Linked DNA regions of Homo sapiens. The protein of the gene in region 1 purifies or fractionates together with the protein of each later gene. This does not show direct contact. Each region holds a gene or a part of one and is shown on either strand. Other genes may lie near its edges.

Region 1 (7,107 bases):
GGAAGAGTTGACCCATGTAACAAACTACTTTGTCTTATTTTAAGAAATTGCCATAGCCACCTCACCCTTCAGAAAGCACCACTCTGATCAGTCAGCAGCCATCAATATCAAGGCAAGACTCTCCTTCAACAAAAAGATATTATTCACTGACAGTTCAGTCGATTTTTAGCAATAAAGTATTTTTCATAAAGGTGTGTACTTTTTTTTTTAGATATAATGCTGTTGCACACTTACTAGACTACAGTATAGTGTAAACAGAACTTTTCTTTTTCTTTCTTTTTTTTTTTTTGAGACGGAGTCTCGCTCTGTCGCCCAGGCTGGAGTGCAGTGGCGCAATCTTGGCTCACTGTAAGCTCCGCCTCCTGGGTTCACACCATTCTCCTGCCACCACGTCCGGCTCATTTTTTTGTATTTTTAGTAGAGACGGGGTTTCACCGTGTTAGCCAGGATGGTCTCGATCTCCTGACCTCGTGATGTGCCCGCTTCAGCCTCCCAAAGTGCTGGGAATACAGGCGTGAGTCACCATCCCTGGCCGTAAACAGAACTTTTATATACACTAGGAAACCTGAAAGTTCATGTGACTTGCTTTATTGCAAATATTTATTGTGATATTTGCTTTATTGCTGCGGTCTGGAATCCAACCCTGCAGTATCTCCAAGGTATGCCTGTATAGGGAAAAACATGGTATAATCAGCCCTCTGAATCCTGGGAATTCGATCAACCACGCATCAAAAATTTTTGGAAAAAAATTGTACCTGTACTGAACAAATAGACATTTTTTCTTGCCATTATCCCCTAAATAATAGAGGATAACAATTACTTACATAGTATACATTGTATTAGGTATTATCAATAATCTAGAGATGACTTAAAATATATGGGAGGATGTACATAGGTTATATGCAAATACTACGCCCTTTTGTATCTGGGACTTGAACATCTGCAGATTTTGGTATCCATAGGAGGGCCTGAAATCAATCCCCCAAGGATACCGAAGAACGACTGTATATATAGGGTTCAGTACTATCCTTGATTTCAGGTATCCACTGGGGGTCTTGGAATGTATCCTCTGCAGATAAGAGGGGACTACTATAGTCTTTGAGAAAGAAGTGTGTGTTACTGTTTTGAAGCCACATCTCTGCACTTTAAAGCTGATCCATATGATATTGCCACATTTTAGTTTAAAGTTTATCCATATATTGTTGTATTTTTTATTGTATACTCTAGACTTTGTATGAAACAAACCTACTAGAATGTAAGCTTAATGATGTCGGGAACATTGTCAGTCTTGTTTATCACTCTACCCCCAGAACTTGAGAGTACTTGGTAAATATTAAATGAATCAATTAACAATTTTTTGAAGTGCATAGCTCATTTTAGAAAAATTTGCATTAAAGTGTTTAAAATATACTCACAACCTTTCTTTGCATTGTTGAAACAAATGAGATATTCTATAGTCTAAATGTGTAATCCTATGTTTACTGTTCTTTCTGGGTAAATTTTTTGGTAGTATAATTTGTTGTACCTAATTGGAGTGTATTTTATCTTTCTTTTAAGACACATGCCTGGACATACAAGTCGAGAAGTACTAATCATCTTTAGCAGCCTTACAACTTGCGATCCATCTAATATTTATGATCTAATCAAGGTAGACCAAAAAATCAAAACCAAAGTTATAACTGTAAAGAGAATTCTGTAGCAAATTGATTTATATATATATGTATTTTTGTATGTGTGATTCATCTTTGTGTTAGATGTATTGAATTTATTACTAGTTTTCAGAGCATTCTTTATTTTTCAAATACATTAAATCTTAAATGTTTTTCTTCTTTCCTAAAACTATCTATCTACTTGGATTTTATGAAGACCCTAAAGGCAGCTAAAATTAGAGTATCTGTTATTGGATTGTCTGCAGAAGTTCGCGTTTGCACTGTACTTGCTCGTGAAACTGGTGGTATATATATAATTTATTTAATATTTGCTTATAATTACTGTGTAGGAAATAATTTATTAATTAAATTAGGATGTTTTAATCTGTTCTGAGCTACTAAACTTAAAGTAGTCTAAAATATGGGCAGTCATCTTAAATATATCATTGATTCCATAAGAAATCATCTCCAAATGCAAAGAGTTTTCAGTACTTATGTCAGTATTTAGAGGAGGTATTATAACTCTTGGAAAGCTGGAAATTTTACTGTATGTAATTCTTTATAAAGATTTTATAACTTGTCTTTAATTAAATTGTAATTACAGGCCAGGCATGATAGCTCATGCCTGTAATCTCAACATTTTGGTAGGCCAAGGCAGGAGAATCACTTGAGGCCAGAAGTTTGAGATCAGTCTGGTTAACATAGTGAGACCTGTCTCTATTTATATGTTAAAATAATAATAATAGTAATAATAATCAATTGTAATTATAGTTATTCCTAGAGAAGTTGATTTAGATATATTACTTAAATAAGGTTTTAAAAGTGATAATTTAGCTAAAATCATTATTTTAAAAATGTACATTTTCAGATGATACAACTTTTACAGAATTACATAGAACGTACAGTTCGTTATGTCTATGAAGGTGTTTTTTTTTCCCTTTTCATCTTGTTAGGCACGTACCATGTTATTTTAGATGAAAGCCATTACAAAGAGTTGCTCACACATCATCTTAGTCCTCCTCCTGCTAGCTCAAGTTCTGAATGCTCACTTATTCGTATGGGTAAGTGTTTTTATGTTTTTAAAAAATACATATCTAGGCTCTCTATTTTCATTTGCACAAGTTATTTTAATATTTAAGAATTTTTAAAGAAAAAATATGCTTGTTGAAGCAATTTTGGAAAGTACAGAGAAGTGGAAAAAAAAAATTAAAACTACCAGTAGTCCTGTCACCCAGAAAATACTGTTGGCTTTCTTTATTTTTAAGGCTAGAAAGGTATAAACTGTGTTTATAGAAAAATACTTATATTAAGCCGGGCTCGGTGGCTCACACCTGTAATCCCAGCACTTTGGGAGGCCGAGGTGGGCGGATCTTGAGGTCAGGAGATCGAGACCATCCTGGCTAACACGGTGAAACCCCATCTCTACTAAAAATACAAAAAATTAGCCAGGCGTGGTGGCGGGCGCCTGTAATCCCAGCTCCTCGGGAGGCTGAGGCAGGAGAATGGCATGAACCCGGGAGGCAGAGCTGGCAATGAGCCGAGATCACACCACTGCACTCTAGCCTGGGCGACAGAGCGAGACTCTGTCTCAAAAAAGAAAACAAAAGAAAAACACTTATATTAAAAATTTTTTAAAATAAGCTACAAAGGCCGGGCGTGGTGGCTCATGCCTGTAATCCTAGCACTTTGGGAGGCCGAGGCTAGCGGATCACCTGAGGTCAGGAGTTTGAGACCACCCTAGCCAACATGGCGAAACCCTGTCTCTACTAAAAATTACCAAAAAATGGCTGGGCATGGTGGCAGACATCTGTAATCCCAGCTACTCAGGAGGTTGAGACAGGAGAATTGCCTGAACTCAGGAAACGGAGGTTGCCATGAGCTGAGATTGCGCCACTGCACTCCAGTCTGGGTGACAGAGCAAGACTCTGTCTCAAAAAAATAAAATAAAATAAAAATAAAATAAGCTACAAAATTCTCTGTACTGGATGATCAAAGCTGTGTAATACAAACTGTGCAAAGACAAAGCTTGCAGGGAAGTACACCAAATTGCTCAAAGGAGGGGAAATTATTGGTTTTGGATCACTTTTTTTTTTCTTTTTTTTTTTGAGATGGAGTCTCATTCTATTTCCTAGGCTGGAAGTGCAGTGGTGCGATCTCAGCTCACACTGCAACCTCCGCTTCCCAGGTTCAAGCAATTCTCCTGCCTCAGCCTCCCGAGTAGCTGGGATTACAGGCGGGCACCACCATGCCCAGCTAATTTTTGTATTTTTAGTAGAGACGGGGTTTCACCATGTTGGCCAGGCTTGTCTTGAACTTCTGACCTCATGATCCGCCCGCCTCGGCCTCCCAGAGTGCTGGGATTACAGGCTTGAGCCACTGTGCCCGGCCTTGGATCACTTTTTTAAAATGTTATTTTCTTCTATTTTACAAAAATGTTACAATGAAAATTTATTACATTTAGATTGAAAAAAGTATAACTTTTAATAGAAAAATAATCTCCTTATTTAATATGTATGTTTTTAAATGTTAATGAAATAAAATGCTTTTCTACTTTTGGCCTTTTATATTACCAGTCGACCTCTCTTTTCCACGGTCTTCTCATGTGTTTAATGATGTCAGTAACTATCAACCTTATTGTGTGTTTCAAGGATTGAGTTAATACAGATGATGCGTTTAGAATAATGCTTGATGTAAACATTCAATATATTTTAGATCTTATGTTTGGCTAATCTTTTTGATTTACTGATATATTTTCTTATTTCATTTTAAAGTTATTTAAATTTATAATTTATTTATTAGAGTCCTTTAGGAATGTTAACCCTTCTCAGTCACCCGATGCAAATATTTTTCTTGTTGGTTATTTGCCTTTACTTTTATTTATTTGTTTTGATATGTAGATACATTTACATTTTTTATGTAATATATCTTTTTAAAAATGGTTTCTGCTTTTCCTGAACATGTTTTCAGAATTTAAAATTGTATATGGAAAACAAATTACATGAAAGATTTGAGCATTTCAAAATTTTAAACATAAAAGCATAAACGTAGATAAAATGAAGGTGTACTATGATATCTTCAGTTTTATCAGAAATGATGTAAAAATTACAACCTCTTTAAAAAGTAGTGTTAATCATTAAGTTAGAAAATATATAGCTGGGCATGGTGGCAGATGCCTGTAATCCCAGCTACATGGGAAGGTGAGGTGGGAGAATCGCTTGAACCCAGGCAGTGGAGGATGCAGTGAGCCAAGATCATGCCACTGCACCCCAGCCTGGGTGACAGAACAAGACTCCATCTCAAGAAAAAAAAAAAAGAAAAATATATATATGAACTTCAGAATCTGAGGTCATATATAGACAGGTCTTTCCCCCGTTTCCTCTACTTTTTCTTGTAGCTTGGAATTAGTCAGTTTCATCATGCTATAATAAGCTTATCTGAAAGGCAGTAAAGTGATATTTTGTACAACTTCATTGGCTTTTTGAGAAGAACATTTTTAGGTTCTTAGTCCTAGAATTCTGCTGTTTGCTTGGAAAAAGAAAGTAATACATTTTCTTCTATGAAGGATTTCCTCAGCACACCATTGCTTCTTTATCTGACCAGGATGCAAAACCCTCTTTCAGCATGGCGTAAGTAAAGACCTTGAAAATATCAGTAATAATGTTTTTACATTTTTAATTCCTTCTTTTAAGTTATAAATTCAAAAGATAGGCAATGAAGACTATCTCTATATACTTGTATGGAGTGATCTTCAGGATAAATTACTAAGTAAAACAGTAGTTTGAGAGAATTTTGTAGTATGCTGCTAATCACCTAAGAAGAAAGTAGAGATGTAAGTGGATGTATATACTTGTTTATGTTAATAATAAAAACAATAGTATGGAAATAATAAAAACTTAAAAGGGGTGGAGGGGGAAATTTTTTTTTTTAATGTTTACCTCAGTGAGTGTGTAGGGAAAAGCAAAGGGTTAGACCCTAGACTTTTCTGAATGCATCACTTAATGATAGGGACACATTCTGAGAAATGCGTCATTAGGTGATACCATCATTGTGCAAACATCACAGAGTGCACTTACACAAACCTAGATAGTGTAGCCTACTAACATCGCAGTTATATAGTATAGCCTATTGCTCCTAGGCCGCACACCTGTACAGCATATTGTGTACTGAATAATGTAGGCAGTTGTAATGTAACACCTAGTGTTTGTTTAACTAAACACAGAAAAGGTACAACTAAAATGTATTATTTTATGGGACCACTGTCATATATGTGGTTCATCACTGACCAAAATGTTATATAGAATATTACTGTACCTTGTTTTAACTTCAGAGCTTTGTATTTTACATAATTATAAAACAAAATTAAATTTAAGAGAGTAATTCTTAAAAATCACAAACAAGATTTCTGCCTCCAGCCAAAAAGCTGTAACAGGGACTAGATTTACCCTCCTGTCAAAAAAAGCAGACAAAATATATAAAACAGTGGTTTTCAGACGTTGGACAGCAAGCCTTGCTGATAATGATCCCTGAAAGAAAGGAAACAAATGAGATGGGCCCTAAGAGCACTCCACCTTACTGCCTGGATGGAATTTCCAGGCTGCACACAGAGGCTGGAGATGTTGTTGAGTTGAAGAAACAAAGTTCATCTTTCAAGGAGGCTGAGATGGCGATAATTTTGCAGGTCAGAGTACTGGAGAGGAAAGATCTGCACAGAGAGAACTCTCTGGGGAGCTGCATAGACTTGCTCATGAGTCAGCAGCTGAGCGTTGATCAGCCCTTTTGTGTGAGGAGACTACTGGAAGTCAGGGAAAAAATCACTGGAAAGCAGCAGACAGAACAGTTTCCAGAGCTCACACAGAGAACATTCATGTTCTCACCAGTCTGTATGGAAATACCTCTTAACATGACAGGCATTGAATAGAGTCCACAGTAATGGGATCAAATTAATTCTATCACAAGAACTGGAACCAGAGGCAAAAAGAAAAGAAAAGAAAAGAAAAATCTAGACTAACAGCTGTTCTAGACCAGCCTACCAAAGTTTAAAAGCAAATTTTGAAGAGATTAAACTATTTCCAAGTTAATGAAGTATATTTCAGAACAAACCCTTAAATATTTGAGGGAATACAAAAAAAAAGAAAAAGAAAAAATCCAGCCCCCAAAACAAAGCAAAATTCACAATGTCTGGCAAAGCAAAATTCATAGTCCCTGGCAGAAATTACCAGGGATGCAAAGGAAAATATGACCCATAAAATGGAGAAAAATCACAGAATGGAAACATACCCAGAAATAACCCAGTTGGTAGAATTAATAGACAAAGGGTTGGGTGCGGTAGCTCATGCCTGTAATGCTAGCACTTTGGGAGGCTCAGGTGGGCAGATCACTTGAGCCCAGGAGTTCGAGATCAGCACAGCCAACATGGCGAAACCCATCTCTACTAAAAACACAAAAATTAGCCAGGCCT
Region 2 (7,725 bases), on another chromosome or scaffold:
TGAGGCTGGAGAATCGCTCGAACCTGGGAGGTGGAGGTTGTAGTGACGGGAGATCACACCATTCCAGCCTGGGCAAAAAGAGTGGAACTCCATCTCAAAAAAAAAAACAACAACAACAAAAAAAAACTTTATCAGTGCTTTACACATTAATAACTTTTATGAATTTATGTATTTTAGTTCTGTACAAATACCATTAGATATTACATGTAAGTGAGTACACTGAGACTGAGATACCATAGATTAAGGAAGAGGCTGTAGCTAAACCAGTAATCCTAATCTCCTGACACCTTGTCTGTTTTTTTTTATGCCACCACACCACATACTGTTTTATACTCTACGACTTATGTACCTGTTTTTTAAGGCAGGCTGTACCTCAAAGAATCAAGTCTCTTATCCTTGAACAAATTACCTACTTTCTTCGAACACTGCTGGCAAAGCTTTAGACCAAACCTATTTTTCTGCCATACATTACATTCCTAGGCAACATTCCCCTTTTGTCAGTCATTATTTACTCAAAGAATAAAATCTAATTTTAACATTAGCCTTGGCCATACCTAATCAGAAAGAAACTTGTTGTGTACTCTAGGACAAAGAAAAATGCTTTAAACCATTCATTGTTTTGGACTGTTTGTAAGAGTTGACATTGCAAGGTAAAACTTAACACACACCCAACCAAGACAACAGATCCTTTCATTCTGAACTCCCATTTAATTTCTCATTCAAGGCTCAAAGCATTCACACTGTGTCCGTAAGTTTTCCCATTCTTTATGTCTACATTTGCTGAATACTCTTTCATCCTTATTGAAGGGCTGAAATGTCATCAGTTTTTCTCTCACCTTTATAATTGTGCCCATGGCCATTTGGATTGTTGCATTTCCCAAACAGTTTCAAGTTTTCTTCATCACTTAGAAATTTACTGACCAAAAAAAAAAAAAAAAGTCAGCATGACACAAGTATCACATTCAAACCCCCTTCTCTGTTCCTTATATTTATTATTTGTACTGATCTTTGAAAAGTTTCCCAATTTATTACTTTAGCTCACCAAAGGGAGAGTCAGAAATCATGTTGATTTTATTACTTACGTATACGTCACAAACCATGGCATATTCCCTAATTAGAAGATTGTACCATACAAATTAGCACAAACAAACCTTAACTTCAACCCCCTTGTTCCACAGCAACTGATCTGCTCATGGGCCTTCCACTTTTCAATTCAACATTACTGAGTGCCTACAATGTAACAGGCAAGTGCTGAATGAAATAACAGCATATAATGATAAACATAGATGGTGATCCGCAAAGTGGCTTACTATCTCATTTCTCTCAGAAGCTAAACTACTCATCCAGAAAAAATAATTTAAAAAAATTACATGACCTGGTAAGTCTCCTATTTAGCAATCTTGCTTTATACTATGTCTCAACTACTGCCTCATGAGAACTTTACCAATCTGTTGAGGAATATTCCAAGCAGGTGAATTTTTAAAATTACAATCTTTGGCTGTCGTCTCAGACAGAAAACAAATTGCTTAATGTTTATACTTATACCCATCCATTCAATTTCGCATCGTCTATGAGACCTTACCACCCTCAGGTGTTTAAGCTTATTATACAACCCCTTTTTTTTGAGATCCTCTTTATTATTCCCCCCAATGTAGTTTGGATGTTTGTCCCCTCCAATTGTCATGTTGAAATGTGATCCCCAGTGTTGGAGATGGGGCCTAGTGGGAGATGTTTGGCTCATGGAAGTGGATCCCTTATGAATGGCTTGGTGCCCTCCCTGAAGCAATGAGTGAGTTCTCGCTCTATTAGTCAATGGGCGAGCTGGTTGTTAAAAAAAGCCTGGCACCTCCTCTCCTCTCTCTTGCTCCCTCACTTGCCCTGTGAGTTGCCTGCTTGCTCGCCCTTCGCCTTCCACCATGAGTGGAAGGTCCCTGAGGCCTCAACAGAAGCAGATGCTGGTGCCATGCTTCTTGTACAGCCTGCAGAACCAAATAAACCTCTTTTCTTTATAAAATACCAGTCTCAGTATTCCTTTGTGGCAATGCAAAATGGAATAACACACCCCCACTTTCTCCTGCTCAGCCACTTCTTGTATTTAGAGTGCTAAAGTCTTTTGCACAAAATTTTCTCAGTGTACCCTCCACAAAATAGGCCAGATTGGAAACCCCATACAAGATCCCTGATGCATCCGTTACCTAGCACAAGCCCTGACAAGCACGAAACAAAACCTGGTTTAGCGAATGGAGGGATGAATCCTGTTAGATAGCGATGGTCATCCTCATTTCACAGACGACGATACGGAGGGCCAGAGGGTGGAGCTGGTTAGTGCGTGGTAAAATTCCTCAAAATCAACTCGTCAGTGCATGCAAGCAGTATGTATGATCGGGATTCAAATCCCAACTATGCTGCTTCGGAAACTGAACGTCTGGGCTCATTTTTTTTTTTTTTTCTCCTAGCCACTAGACCACCAGGGACTGGGTTCATCCAGTCTTTGGTAAAAAAGGGGCTAAAATTTGCCTTGTAATTACATTAGATATGGTGGCCAATGCTCCTGGCATACAAGATTAGCTAACATTTACTGAGTGTCTACGCCGCGCCAGGTACTGTGTAACATAGGCGAGTTTAACACTGCTGAGTTTCACAGCAACCCTGTGGTCTACACCAAGGGACTCCTAGGGGCAGAGACGTTTCTTCGAGTCGCAGAACCGGGTGTGGGCCCCGCACCCAGACGTGGGCCATCGCCCTCCGCAGTCGGCTCCGTTAACCATCAAGCTCCCCCACCCCTCCAGGGCTGGGGACACTCCAGCCCCCATCAGGATGCTGGAGGCCGTCCGAAGCCCCACGAAGCCGACCAGCGCGCGTCGCCCCAGCAGCCCCCGCGCCCCTCCCGGGCCCGACGTCAGCACGCCCGCCGGCCCCGCCCCGGTGACGTTCCGGGGCCCGGCGCCCACCGCCCGCCGCTGTACCTGTGTGCACACCCTACCTGTACAATCGGTGGCTCGCGCTGAAGGAGATGCGGCGGGACACTTGTGCCTGGCAGCGACGGCCACCACCTTCCGTGCTCATCTTCCCGGCGCTGTCTGCGGTGCTCGGCCGGCACCTCCTCCCGCCGCGCGGCCGGTGCCTCCTCCCACCGCGGCTGCGCAGTGCGTGCCAGACGCGCCCCTAGGAAGTGCGTCTCCGCTTCCGCTCTGGCCAATCCCGGCCTCGGGAGACAGTTAAGGGTGTCTCTCGCTATCTGAATCTCTTCGGAGAGCAAGATTTGGGATACCTAAGCATACCCTGGAGTGGTCAGGGTGGGTGGGGACCCTGTGTCCTTGATCTGTTTGCCCCGCCTGAGGTCACGCCACGTAGTTAGGGCCCGTCTGGGCACACTTTGGGTCCTGAGTGACCTCTCTGAGCCTCCTCTCCCACTCTCTCCTGTAAAGCTCCAGTGACTGGTGACTCAATCGGATGAACCCCAGGGCCACAGTCCGCTTTATAGACCAAAAGGAGCAGGAATTGAGCCAGGCGGGCGTGGTGACGCACTCCTGTAGCCCCAGCTATTGAGAAGGAGAGGGATCACTTCAGCCCAGGAGTCCAACCTGGGCAATAGAGCAAGACCCTCGTTTCTCTTTTTCTTTTTTCTTTTTAATTATTATTATACTTTAAGTTCTAGGGTACATGTGCACAACGTGCAGGTTTGTTACATAGGTATTCATGTGTTATGTTGGTTTGCTGCACCCATCAACTCGTCATTTACATTAGGTATTTCTCCTAATGCTATCCCTCCCCCAGCCCCCTACTCCCTGACAGGCACCGGTGTGTGATGTTCCCCACCCTGTGTCCATGTGTTCTCATTGTTTGATTCCCACCTATGGGTGAGAACATGCAGTGTTTGGTTTTCTGTCCTTGTGATAGTTTGCTGAGAATGATGGTTTCCAGCTTCATCCATGTCCCTGCAAAGGACATGAATTCATCGTTTTTATGGCTGCATAATATTCCATGGTGTACATGTGCCACATTTTCTTAATCCAGTCTATCATTAATGGACATTTGGGTTGGTTCCAAGTCTTTGCAATTGTGAATAGTGCCACAATAAACATACAGGTGCATGTGTCTTTAAAGTAGCATGATTTATAATCCTTTGGGTATATACCCAGTAATGGGATGGCTGGGTCAAATGATATTTCTAGTTCTAGATCCTTGAGGAATCGTCACACTGTCTTCCACAATGGTTGAACTCATTTACACTCCCACCAACAGTGTAAAAGCATTCCTATTTCTCCACATCCTCTCCAACATCTGTTGTTTCCCAACTTTTTAATGATCGCCATTCTAACTGGTGTGAAATGGTATCTCATTGTGGTTTTGATTGGCATTTCTCTGATGGCCAGTGATGATGAGCATTTTTTCATGTGTCTGTTGGCTGCAGAAATGTCTTCTTTTGAGAAGTGTCTGTTCATATGCTTTGCCCACTTTTTGATGGGGTTGTTTGATTTTTTTTCTTATAAATTTGTTTAAGTTCTTTGTAGATTCTGGATATTAGCCCTTTGTCAGATGGGTAGATTGCAAAAATTTTCTCCCATTCTGTAGGTTGCCTGTTCACTCTGATGGTAGATTCTTTTGCCGTACAGAAGCTCTTTAGTTTAATTAGATCCCTTTTGTCTATTTTGGCTTTTGTTGCCATTGCTTTTGGTGTTGTAGTCATGAAGTCCTTGCCCATGCCTATGTCCTGAATGGCATTGCCTAGGCTTTCTTCTAGGGTTTTTATGGTTTTCGGTCTGATATTTAAGTCTTTAATCCATCTTGAGTTAATTTTTGTGTAAGGTGTAAGGAAGGGATCCAGTTTCAGCTTTCTACATATGGCTAGCCAGTTTTCCCAGCACCATTTATTTAATAGGGAATCCTTTCCCCATTTCTTGTTTTTATCAGGTTTGTCTAAGATCAGATGGTTGTAGATGTGTGGTGTTATTTCTGAGGCCTCTGTTGTGTTCCATTGGTGTATATATCTGTTTTGGTACCCATACCATGCTGTTTTTGTTACTGTAGGCTTGTAGTATAGTTCGAAGTCAGGTAGCGTGATGCCTCCAGCTTTGTTCTTTTTGCTTAGGATTAATACCGTTTCTTTAAAAAAAAATTTTTAAAGAGCAAGAATTTGAGAGCACAAATAGGACCACGTGACAACAGTCCTTTGGACTGTTGTGTAATGATCCTTACTAAGGGAAATTCTAAAGCCATTCTTATCCACAAGCATGTATGGACCCATTTATTACTCTGGGTTGGCATAGTGTGAATACAGACACCCCTAAACACATATTAGCAATTCTTCTGCCAGTGTAGACACATTGAGAGTGAAAGGATCTTGTTTCCTCACATCTACTCACAAGAGTAACCAAACTACACACAGTTCCCAGAATCATGTCACCTCTTGCTTCCATTCACTCTTTCACTAAATATTTATTGGGCATCTACTATGTGGCTGGCATTGTTCCAGGTACTGGAGAGGACAGCTCCACTCTATATGAGAAAAATCATCACTGTATATGATGAAAAGCAGGACAAGTCACTGATTAATAACAGGCTTGGAAAAGTTTCCTGTAAAAAGAAAGATAAAATCATGGGGGCGATAGAAATAAGCTCAAATGGTGATTTCCCTCAAATATCTCCTATTTACAGCTATATATTCTGTTTGTTCTGCATTAAACTACTAACAGGTTATTTAGCAAACACTCTCCATACATTTTCAGATGTTTGTCTCATCTACCCCATTGTACTGTAAAGAAAAAACTTCAAATAACATTTAGAGATTTTCGAGATAGAGACTGTTTAGTTCAATACTTTCACTTTACAGATAAGAAAATACAGCCACAGATAAGTGAATTACTATTGCGAGATCACTCAGAACAGAAACATTATTTCCCAGGTATGGACTGCCTCAGTGATAAATACTCTCTAACAGTCAGTGGTTACACAAATAGTTGCTCATTCCAAAACCAGCTTAAAGAATCAAAATAAAGTGAAAGAGTAAGAGAAATTTCTGCAAAATTATTTTTATTAATAATACTTGTTTGTTTTAGTAAAATATTTCACTGCATTTGCAGAGTTGAAGTTTAACCTGTTTGGAAATAGGATTGTTGCACACGTATTGAGATGAGGTGTTTAGGATGGGACCTAATCCAACATGACTAATGTTCTTGTAGAAAGGGGAAACTTGGACTCAAAAACTGACACATACAGAGGGAAGATCATGTGAAGACACAGACAACACCATCTCCAAGCCCAGGAGAGAGAACTGGAACAGATCTTTCTTCAAAGCCCTCAGAAGGAAAAAACCAACTTTGATTTCAGACTTCTAGCTTCCAGAATTGTGAGACAATTCATTTCTGTTAAGACCTCTGTGGTACTTTGTTATGGCAGCCCTAGCAGACTAACACACTAACCAATAAGCAAATAACATTCCTCTTAACTTAGCTTTCAGTGCCTTGAGATCAACAGCCATTTAGGTATAGTTCTCCCTTCACTCTTGCAACATTTACTGGCTTGTGCTTGGCTGCGTTGTCTCAGAAGGCTAGCTTCTACTAAAAGATCCCATAAGGGCCCCTGGCCAGCCTTCCTGCCTCAACTCCCCTGCTGTCTCCAGGGGCAGGTGGCAGGCATGGGTACCTGCATTTCACTGGAGTGGGTTCTTGGATCTCTGAGGGGAAGGAACAGCAGAAGAGGCCCTTCTTCCTCACCCAAGATGCAGGTGGTTGGGGCCAGGAGTTTGGACCCTCCAGGTCTTGGGGGAATAGCTGGGTAATACCTGGTGTCTGAGCGATTCTCTGCAGACCCTTCCCCTCCTCAAGGACCACCCATCCTCCTTTCAGCCCCCTTTATGGGGGCCGGGCAGCTCTGGAGCCAGCCACAGAGTCTCTTACAGAAGCAAGGCCTGGAGTGGCCTGCACCAAGAAGCAGGGTCAGGGTTCGTGTGCTCCTCCTCCTGCCACAGGGGCCGCACATCCCATTGCCCCACTTCTGCTTTCTGTCTCCCTCTGTCTAGCTTCTAGGGCAGGAGCAGGCCCCACCTAGGGCTGCAGGCAGTTTGGCCTGTGCCAGCACGGGCTCCTGTGCCCACCAGCCTCACAGGTGCTGTGCTTTGTGCTCTTGGCTGCTGTGCTGGGACAGAATGGGATGCCAGGAAGAGAAGAAGAAGAAAGGGGGTGCAGTCTGAGGCCACCACCCTCCTTCCTATCTAAGGGAGGGCTGAAGACAAGGGGCTGGCATTCAGTGGGTAACAGAAAGGAGAGGCCCCTTGAAGCTGCTCAGTCAAAGGGCCCCTGTCCCTCCTTTTGCTCTCCCCAGGACTAAAGACCTGAAGGGGCTGGGTGTGGGGCTGGCTTTTGGAGTGTCAAGGTGAATATGTGGGAGCAGAGATCATGAATAACTCAGGGCAGTGAATGGCGCACCAAGGGCAGGGCTGTGTGTGGGAGGCTGCGGCCAAAATTGCCTCAGCTCCTCCCCCTCAGGCTGGGAGGCTGGGGGCTGGGGGTGGGGGTGGAGGGTCTCAGCTCTGCTGCCCCCACCCCAGTACTAGCCTAGCTTCCCAAGCTGGGGCTTAGAGGATAGTTGGCTTCCTGCCTCTCTCCACTAAAACAGCAAGTCTGGGAAATCCTGGGGCGAGTGGAGTCAACCCACACCCCAGTTGCTGGCAGAGACTGAGACTAAAGCATCACTTAATAAATACCCCCAAGCCCCCCCACCAAA
Region 3 (7,725 bases), on another chromosome or scaffold:
ACATGCAAGTGGATGGTCATTTCAGCACTATTTGCAATAGCAAAGCCATGGAATCAACCTAAATCTCCATCAGTGGTCTATTAATGGATAAAGAAAATGTGTTACATATACAACCTGGAATACCATGCAGCTATAAAAAAGAATGACAGGCCAGGTGCTGTGGCTCAGGCCTGTAATCCCAGCACTTTGGAAAGCCGAGGCGGGCAGATCACGAGGTCAGGAGTTCGAGACCAGCCTGACCAACATGGTGAAACCCCGTCTCTATTAAAAATACAAAAATTAGCCAGGTGTGGTGGCACACCCTGTAATCCCAGCTACTCAGGAGGCTGAGTCAGGAGAATCGCTTGAACCTGGGAGGCAGAGATTGCAGTGAGCCGAGATCGCACCACTGCACTCTAGCCTGGATGACAGAGCAAGACTCTGTCTCAAAAAAAAAAAAAAAAAAAAAAAAAAGAATGAGATCATGTTCTTTGTAGCAACATGAATGGAGCTGGAGGCCATTACCCTAAGAAGACTAACACAGGAATAGAAAACCAAATACTGCATATTCTCACTTATAAGACGGAGCTGAACATCGAGTACATATGGACACAAACAACAACAAAACAACAGGCACTGGGGCCGACTTAAGGGTGGAGGATGGGGGATGGGGAAGGATCAAAAAACTACCTATTGAGTACTATGCTTATTACCTGGGTAATGAAATAATCTGTACATCAACCCTAGGACATGCAATTTACCTTTGTAACAAACCTGCACATGCACCCTGAACCTAAAATAAAAGGTAAAAAATATAGCAGATGTTACAGGACAGTTCAAGAAAACACTCCACACTCTTATGTCCCAGGGGATTCCTACTTTAAGAAACGTTTCCAACTCCTTTTGTAAATAATTCTTTATTCGTATCCCCTTATGTGACCATTCAGTGATTTGTCTTTTAGTTCAATTCAACTAATATTTATTGAGTACTTAGCACAGTTTGGGCACTGTGCTTAAGACATACAAAGAAGAAATAAACTTGGCCTCTGCCCTGGAATTTCTGACAGCCTAATAGCAAAAACATGGAATCAACCTAAATGCCCATCAATGGTAGACTGAAGGGGAGGTGGACTGATTTATAAAAGTAAAGCCTTTTCCTGAAGTGAGACAACAGACTGCTATCATACCGTTTTATGATAGTCTTGGGGAAATAAAAAAAAAAATCCAGACTGCTATTAGAGTTTATCAATAAATTTTCATTAAAAGGCAAGATCTCTGATCCTTCTCAAGAGACTATTTGATTTTGATCACATTATTTTATTTAGAAAAAGGAGAGATTTGGGGTGGCTGAAGTATAGTTGTGATACTTAGAAACACCTGTTATTTAAGAGAAAAATCATCGTGTTTCCTTTGGCAGCACATTTACAAACACTGGAATGTTACAGAGATCAGTGTGGCCTCTGAGCAAGGATGACATGCAAATTCTTGAAGTGTTTCAGATTAAAAAGACAGAGAGAGAAACACTGTCATTACTTTTTAAACTCATTTAAAATCTGAAAACTGGGACCTTCCTTTCTTACCGTCTTATCTCACTGACCCTGATCCACAGACGCAAGGGAAGCTAAGCATATGATCACTCGTGGGGTAACTGTCATTTTTCTTTATCTCACATCTTGAGCACATTTGAGTGCCGTGCCCAGCACTCCAAGGATTTCTGTCAGCATGTATTTATTGGCCTTTTATTAGAAACTTTCTTACCTCATGTCTGCTCTCATGAATATAGATCAGAAATTAGAAACAAAAAATATTTATCTGGTAAGCAATTTCTTTGGTAACTGAACTAATAGGAACTACTGGGACTTCCTGGAAGTGAGGCTACCTTTTCCATTAGAGTTTATGCTTCCTCTTTTGTAGACTTCACACATTGCTCAAATATTTGTGGCGTGCATTCCAACTACAAGGTGCAATTGAGGGACGAGAAAAGGGAAAACTTAGTTGGGCAGACAGCTAAAGTTGGTCTTTGGTAAAATTCTTTTAAACAGAAAGACAGCCTGAAAAATCAAGCTACAGGCACACATAGAGTGGCCTGGGGAAAACTCAGGCAACAGCTGCCCTGATAAGAAAGGAAGGCCCAACATAGAAGCCTTTTGTTCTTTGTGTGATTAGCAGGTTCCCAGGAAAAAGTTTCTTCCCCTTTTCAGGCACATACATGGTGGGCTCTGTGGGAACTTGCATGGGGGTGGAGAGGGTGATTACCTAGAACCCACAGTTACACAAACAAGAGAAGCTGAACTTTATCCTTACCCAAGACATACCCACAGCTGCACAGATAAGGGGAGCTGCACAGATAGCTTTACAAGTAAGTTACACAAACAGCTACAGAGATGAGAGGAGTTTCTTATAAAAGCTTTTGGATTCAACTGTAAAAGTGGCAAAATGGCAAAGAAAGAAAGCTTTCTTCTTTCATATAATAAACTTTCTCTTCAACCTCACTCTGGTGTCCACACTCCTTAATTCTCTTGGTTGTGAGACAACAAGCTTGGATAACACCTCAGACAACGAGACCACTGACCACTGACCCGTTTCACAATGACGTACTACAGGATGGTGTATGCTGGGTATTCATACATCGTCATGCAACTTCCTAGTTTTATGTGTAAGGTAGTTTCCTCTGTCATCACCTTGGTATTTCCCATCTAGTCACGGTATTAAGTGGGTCTTATGCGCTTGTTAAGAGCTGGTAAGAGAAGCTTAACATTCACTTGATGGAATGGTTACTGTGGCTTGTATCCACAGGAGCTCCAGCTCATGCTTAAAATACTGTGTTAGAACAAATGGATCAGAGTGAATTCTGTAACAGTAAATCCACAGAACTGAAAATTACTGACTTGCATCATAAACTGGTTGCAGTGGCAAGGCAGAGAGTTCAGATTCGTGTTGTACTGGGGAAAGAAGAAACCAAAGAAAATAAGTGGTTCATACACAGGGGACTATTTAACTGATCCAAGCCAGAAGACTACTGAGGGTGAAAGGAGCATTATCAGTAATTATGTTTAGACAAAAGTTGTGACTGTCCTTAGTAAACCAGGATAGACGTAGAGTCAATTCAAAAAGAAAGAAAGAACAAACATATCTAATGTACATTAAGAACCCAGGGATATCGGGTTCTTAATGTGCATATTTATTGGATTGCCCAGAGCTTTGACCTTCAAGTATAATTGAGTTCTTGAAACTTAGATTTAGGTTTGTGGTTAAGGGGCAAAATAATCAGATTCCAAATAGGGTTCTGCAGACAAATCCCACAGGTCCTAAAGTCTCTGGGTCTTTTCCTTGCCATTGTGGTATCTCAGGGGCTTGTGTAGGCAATGATAACCAGTTCCATACTTCTGCTAAGAGAAATTTGGGGATCAGAAAATCTTTCTCTGCAGCTCTTCAGAGTCTCTTTAATTTACTTCAATAACAAGGAAATCAGAAATCTCAGGACAGTGCTGGATGTGGCAGAAATTCAGGGCAATTCACAACTTTCCTACCAATTTAGAGTTACCTGTCTGGAATCACTTCAACTGACAGTGGAAGATAGTTTATAAAATTGTAGGGGAGGCAAAATTTCACCTTCGTCCCTGTAGGGTCCCAGCATGGCCCTAGTATTAAATTGATTTAAGATATTAATAGACTGACAGGAGACAACCACACAAATGTTTATTTTACATAGCACGGGGGCCCTCATTAAAAAAAAAAAAGACCTAAAGCAGCAGTTAAGAGCCAATTGCTTATAGAGTGAAATGGACAAAAAATAGTAGTTGTGAAACATGATAAGGCGAAGGGGCTTGGGGTAAAGAAGCGACTAGAAAGATAGGGATTAACAAATTTTGTTTGGACAGATTTCCCTCGACTTCAACTTTCTGTCCTTGAAGATAACAATGTTATTTTATAGGGAAGACATCTTTCACATGGGAATTTCATCTCCTCCTTTTAAGACACATAATATCCATGACAGTGATCTTGCACCTGCTGTTTTTAAGTGCCTTTAATTTAAAATAGTCAATATGCCACAGCAGCATATTTTGAGGTGGTATATTATTAACTCCTTCAAGGCTAAAAGCTTTGAATATGCCGGGGTAGTTACCAGACTGGAGAACCTTCTCAGCTATTTGCCACTTGTGGAATGCATTCAAATGTACTGAGTGCTTATTAACTTTTCTCTCAGTCCCTCACTCTGCTGCTCTTCTCGCCTCATCTCACATAAGGGAAAACTCAGGCTCCAAAAGCAAAGTGATTCCACCAAGATGACAATGGAATCGGGACCTGGTGTCCAAGCCTGGTCCTCGCACGAGGTAGATACTCCCTGAGATGCTGGGGAAGAGCCATGGTAGGGCCACTCATGGCCCTCTTCCTTTGGCGGACCTTGGAATCCACCTTCCCTGCGTTAAAGTGCTCCACCAGGTGACGCCGGAAGAGAAGCCAGCAGTAAGTACATGTGAAATCCAGTAGCTGACCACAGACACGCGAGCGATAAGAAAAAGCTCGCTGCTTCTTTTCTCAACACTCCGCCAGCTGCGTCAGAGGCCCTTGACCCGCACTCAAAATGGCGGCGGCGGCGTCAGCATCAGCGGCCTCCTGCCCGTATCTATCGTGGCGGCGACGGGACCCGCCTCCCTGGGCGCCGGAGTCATGTGACCCACACAATGGCTGAGTGGCTACTCTCGGCTTCCTGGCAACGCCGAGCGAAAGCTATGACTGCGGCCGCGGGTTCGGCGGGCCGCGCCGCGGTGCCCTTGCTGCTGTGTGCGCTGCTGGCGCCCGGCGGCGCGTACGTGCTCGACGACTCCGACGGGCTGGGCCGGGAGTTCGACGGCATCGGCGCGGTCAGCGGCGGCGGGGTGAGCGGCAAGCTGCGGGGATACGCGGGGGGCGGCAAGAGCCCGCCCCGTGGGGCCAGCCCCACAAGCCCCCGCGGCGTTGCCCTGCGTTTCCACCGGCTCCACTCTCCGCCGCATTCCCCTAGGGTGCCAGTCAGCAGGCGGTTGGGGCGGGCCCGCTGCGGGGCTGGGGCGGGTGCTTTCTCGTTTAACACGAACCAGACAGGCAGTTAGGTTTGAACAAATGAGGATCCGGAGGTCCAGAGAGTATAGGTGCAGAGAGTAAAGTGACAGGTCTAAGTAGTGAAGTAGCCGGGGCTGGAACCCTCGTCCCAGGCAGTGGGGCACAGGCTGTCTTCATCGCGGAGATGGCAGTCGGGGAGCGTCGCTCCAGAAAGGGCCAGGGAGTGCGGGAGCGTCCGTGTGCGAAAGAGAACGCCCCAGTGGGATGCTTTGGCTGTGTCTCTCCCTTTTGGAGGAGTTGGTGGGTGGTGGAGTCGTTAAGTCCCGTGCAGTTGTTAGTGCAGGGTAAGAATGGGCTCCTCCAGAGAGGGTAGCGCCGAATAGGATTTCGTTTGGAGGCAGGACTGGTGCCTCAAGGTCTCTTTAAAAGGAAGATAAGCGAGCGGCCTGAAACTACCGGGTACTCCCTCTGGGCCCATGGGCTTCATGGTGGCCGACCTTTGGGTGAGAAGGTTTTTGTTTTTTGGTTTTGTATCCGAAATTACATCTAGGGCTAATGTTTCTTGAAAATGTTAAGGTTGAACTCGGATTTTTGGGGTTGAGTTGGATGGAGCTTGCATCCTTACATTCAACTCAGAACAAGCTTGAATGCCTGCTGCAAGGATGACCTGGTCTGTAGTGTGACCACAAGATATAACCTTCTGCTAGGGGAAATTTTTTTCCCCCTGGAGTTAGCTGATCCTTTTTGATTTTTATGTTTTCATTCCCTAATTTGCAATCTCTCCAGCCGTGCTGATGTGTATTTCAGGGGAAACCTGTGGGCCGATGAGTTAATGCATTTATTCTTTGCTACTACTATTCTCCTTTTTATGTTTTTGGGCTAAACCTGAAACAGCCAATATTTCATGGAGTGAGGCCCCATCTTTTTTATAGCTTTACTTGTGATACTATATCTAGGGTAAGAGCTTACCGAAAAATGGAAGTCTTTGTTTCCATTAGGTTTATTAAGCCCAGTTTAAAATTACTAAGATGAGAAGAATCATTTCGTAATTCAAAGTAGGAAACTCCTACCTAATCTGATAGAATATACAATTATTAGTATCCCTATATAGTTCATTACTCCTCATAGGAACTCACTAAATAATGAAAATTCTTGCAACATTATATTTGCATACCACTTTAAACTTCTTTGTGGAGTCCTTGGTTCCTAGCCCAGGTTGTGCCAGTAAGTGTTTAGAGTGCTGTCATTTAATCTTCATGTCAGAGAGGGAAAGCGGTATGGTACAGTAAGTAGTTAAGAATGTAGGGCCGGGCACGGTGGCTCACGCCTGTAATCCCAGCACTTCGGGCTTCCGAGGCGGGCGGATCACGAGGTCAGGAGATCAAGACTATCCTGGCTAACACGGTGAAACCCCGTCTCTACTAAAAATACAAAAAATTAGCCAGTCTTGGTAGCACGCGCCTGTAGTCCCAGCTACTCGGGAGGCTGAGGCAGGAGAATCGCTTGAACCCGGGAGGCGGAGGTTGCAGTGAGCCGGGATCACACCACTGCACTCCAGCCTGGGCGACAGAGTGAGACTCCGTTCAAAACACAAACAAACAAAAAAACCCAAAAACCAAACCAAAGCGAAACAAAACAAAAAGAATGTAGACTAAAGAGAAGATTGCCAAGAGTGTCTTCTGGGTTCTGCCACTTCACTGTGTGGCCTTGGTGGGTTATCTATTATAACTCCTCTCTGCCTCACTTTCTTTTTTTGGGATACAGTTATACCTGCATGGTAGGAGCGCCGTGAGGATAGACCTAAAGTACTTAGGATGATGTCTTGCACATTACTAATTTTGGTTAATAACCATTTTCAGGGATTAGGGAGGAGGAAGTTATTTCAAGGCCACTGAATGATGAAATGTCCCCAAGGCTTTTTCCTGGGCCTGTAAACAGTTCCAGGCCTCATTCAGGCAGTGTGGTTAGTAATCCCGTGATTTGCTATTGCTAGATGGTGCATTTTAACATTTGGTTATATTGCCTTTGACTTATGCTGTTGTGTTAGGTGTGGCTATAGGTTTGCAATAACATGATTGGTGTGTTTGCCTAAAGCCGATACTTTCTCTGTTAAATGTGGGAGTGCATAGAGGGCAAAAGAAACCCTAGACAGCAAAACGCACAGTATTAATGGCGTAGCGTAGGACAGGAAGCATTGTTTACCTAGGGTCAAGGATATATTAGTGTGCCTATACAGTGTTCATTTAAAGAGTGCCTATTTTAATATTGGAGCCTCTGCTAGGTTGTAAGCTCTTTGAGAAATATGTATTTTAAAAAATTTGTGTATATAACACTTGCCTTTATTGAGAACTTACTATGTGCCAGGTAATGTGCCAAGTCCTTTACATACATCTAATTTTAGTCTTACAGCAGTTGAATGAGTAAGATAGCCCACTTTACAATAATTTGCCTATGATTACATAGCTTATTAATGATGAAATCAGGATACAAACTCCATTTGACTCAAAGACTCCTATTTATGTTGCCAGTACCAGTGCAACAAAAGACCCATAAAATATTTAATAAGTGTTTATTGAATAACAAAGAATGAGGATACAAACTTGAATAAGATACAGTCCATGTCCTTAAGGAACTAAGAGGTGAGTCAGAAAAATAAAGGAGTGCCGGGGTTCAAAGTGTTGTAATAAAGATATGGACCTGGTG

The links.
Region 2: the proteins of GTF2H2C (region 1) and PTS purify together in Homo sapiens (affinity purification with mass spectrometry; 3 studies listed by BioGRID and IntAct, with this or other methods). This does not show direct contact.
Region 3: the proteins of GTF2H2C (region 1) and GALC purify together in Homo sapiens (affinity purification with mass spectrometry; 3 studies listed by BioGRID and IntAct, with this or other methods). This does not show direct contact.

What each region holds. Positions count from the first base shown.
Region 1 is NC_000005.10:69,577,155-69,584,261, forward strand, and holds part of GTF2H2C (general transcription factor IIH subunit 2-like protein), read left to right. Parts: intron 1-1,557; coding exon 1,558-1,648; intron 1,649-1,866; coding exon 1,867-1,954; intron 1,955-2,602; coding exon 2,603-2,710; intron 2,711-5,211; coding exon 5,212-5,275; intron 5,276-7,107. UniProt on the Homo sapiens protein: Component of the core-TFIIH basal transcription factor involved in nucleotide excision repair (NER) of DNA and, when complexed to CAK, in RNA transcription by RNA polymerase II.
Region 2 is NC_000011.10:112,221,785-112,229,509, reverse strand, and holds the start of PTS (6-pyruvoyl tetrahydrobiopterin synthase), read right to left. Parts: upstream 3,083-7,725; 5' UTR 3,067-3,082; coding exon 2,984-3,066; intron 917-2,983; coding exon 837-916; intron 1-836. UniProt on the Homo sapiens protein: Involved in the biosynthesis of tetrahydrobiopterin, an essential cofactor of aromatic amino acid hydroxylases. Catalyzes the transformation of 7,8-dihydroneopterin triphosphate into 6-pyruvoyl tetrahydropterin.
Region 3 is NC_000014.9:87,990,104-87,997,828, reverse strand, and holds the start of GALC (galactocerebrosidase isoform a precursor), read left to right. Parts: upstream 1-4,646; 5' UTR 4,647-4,664; coding exon 4,665-4,859; intron 4,860-4,974; exon of another isoform or gene 4,975-5,498; coding exon of another isoform or gene 5,499-5,525; exon of another isoform or gene 5,526-6,732; intron 6,733-7,725. UniProt on the Homo sapiens protein: Hydrolyzes the galactose ester bonds of glycolipids such as galactosylceramide and galactosylsphingosine.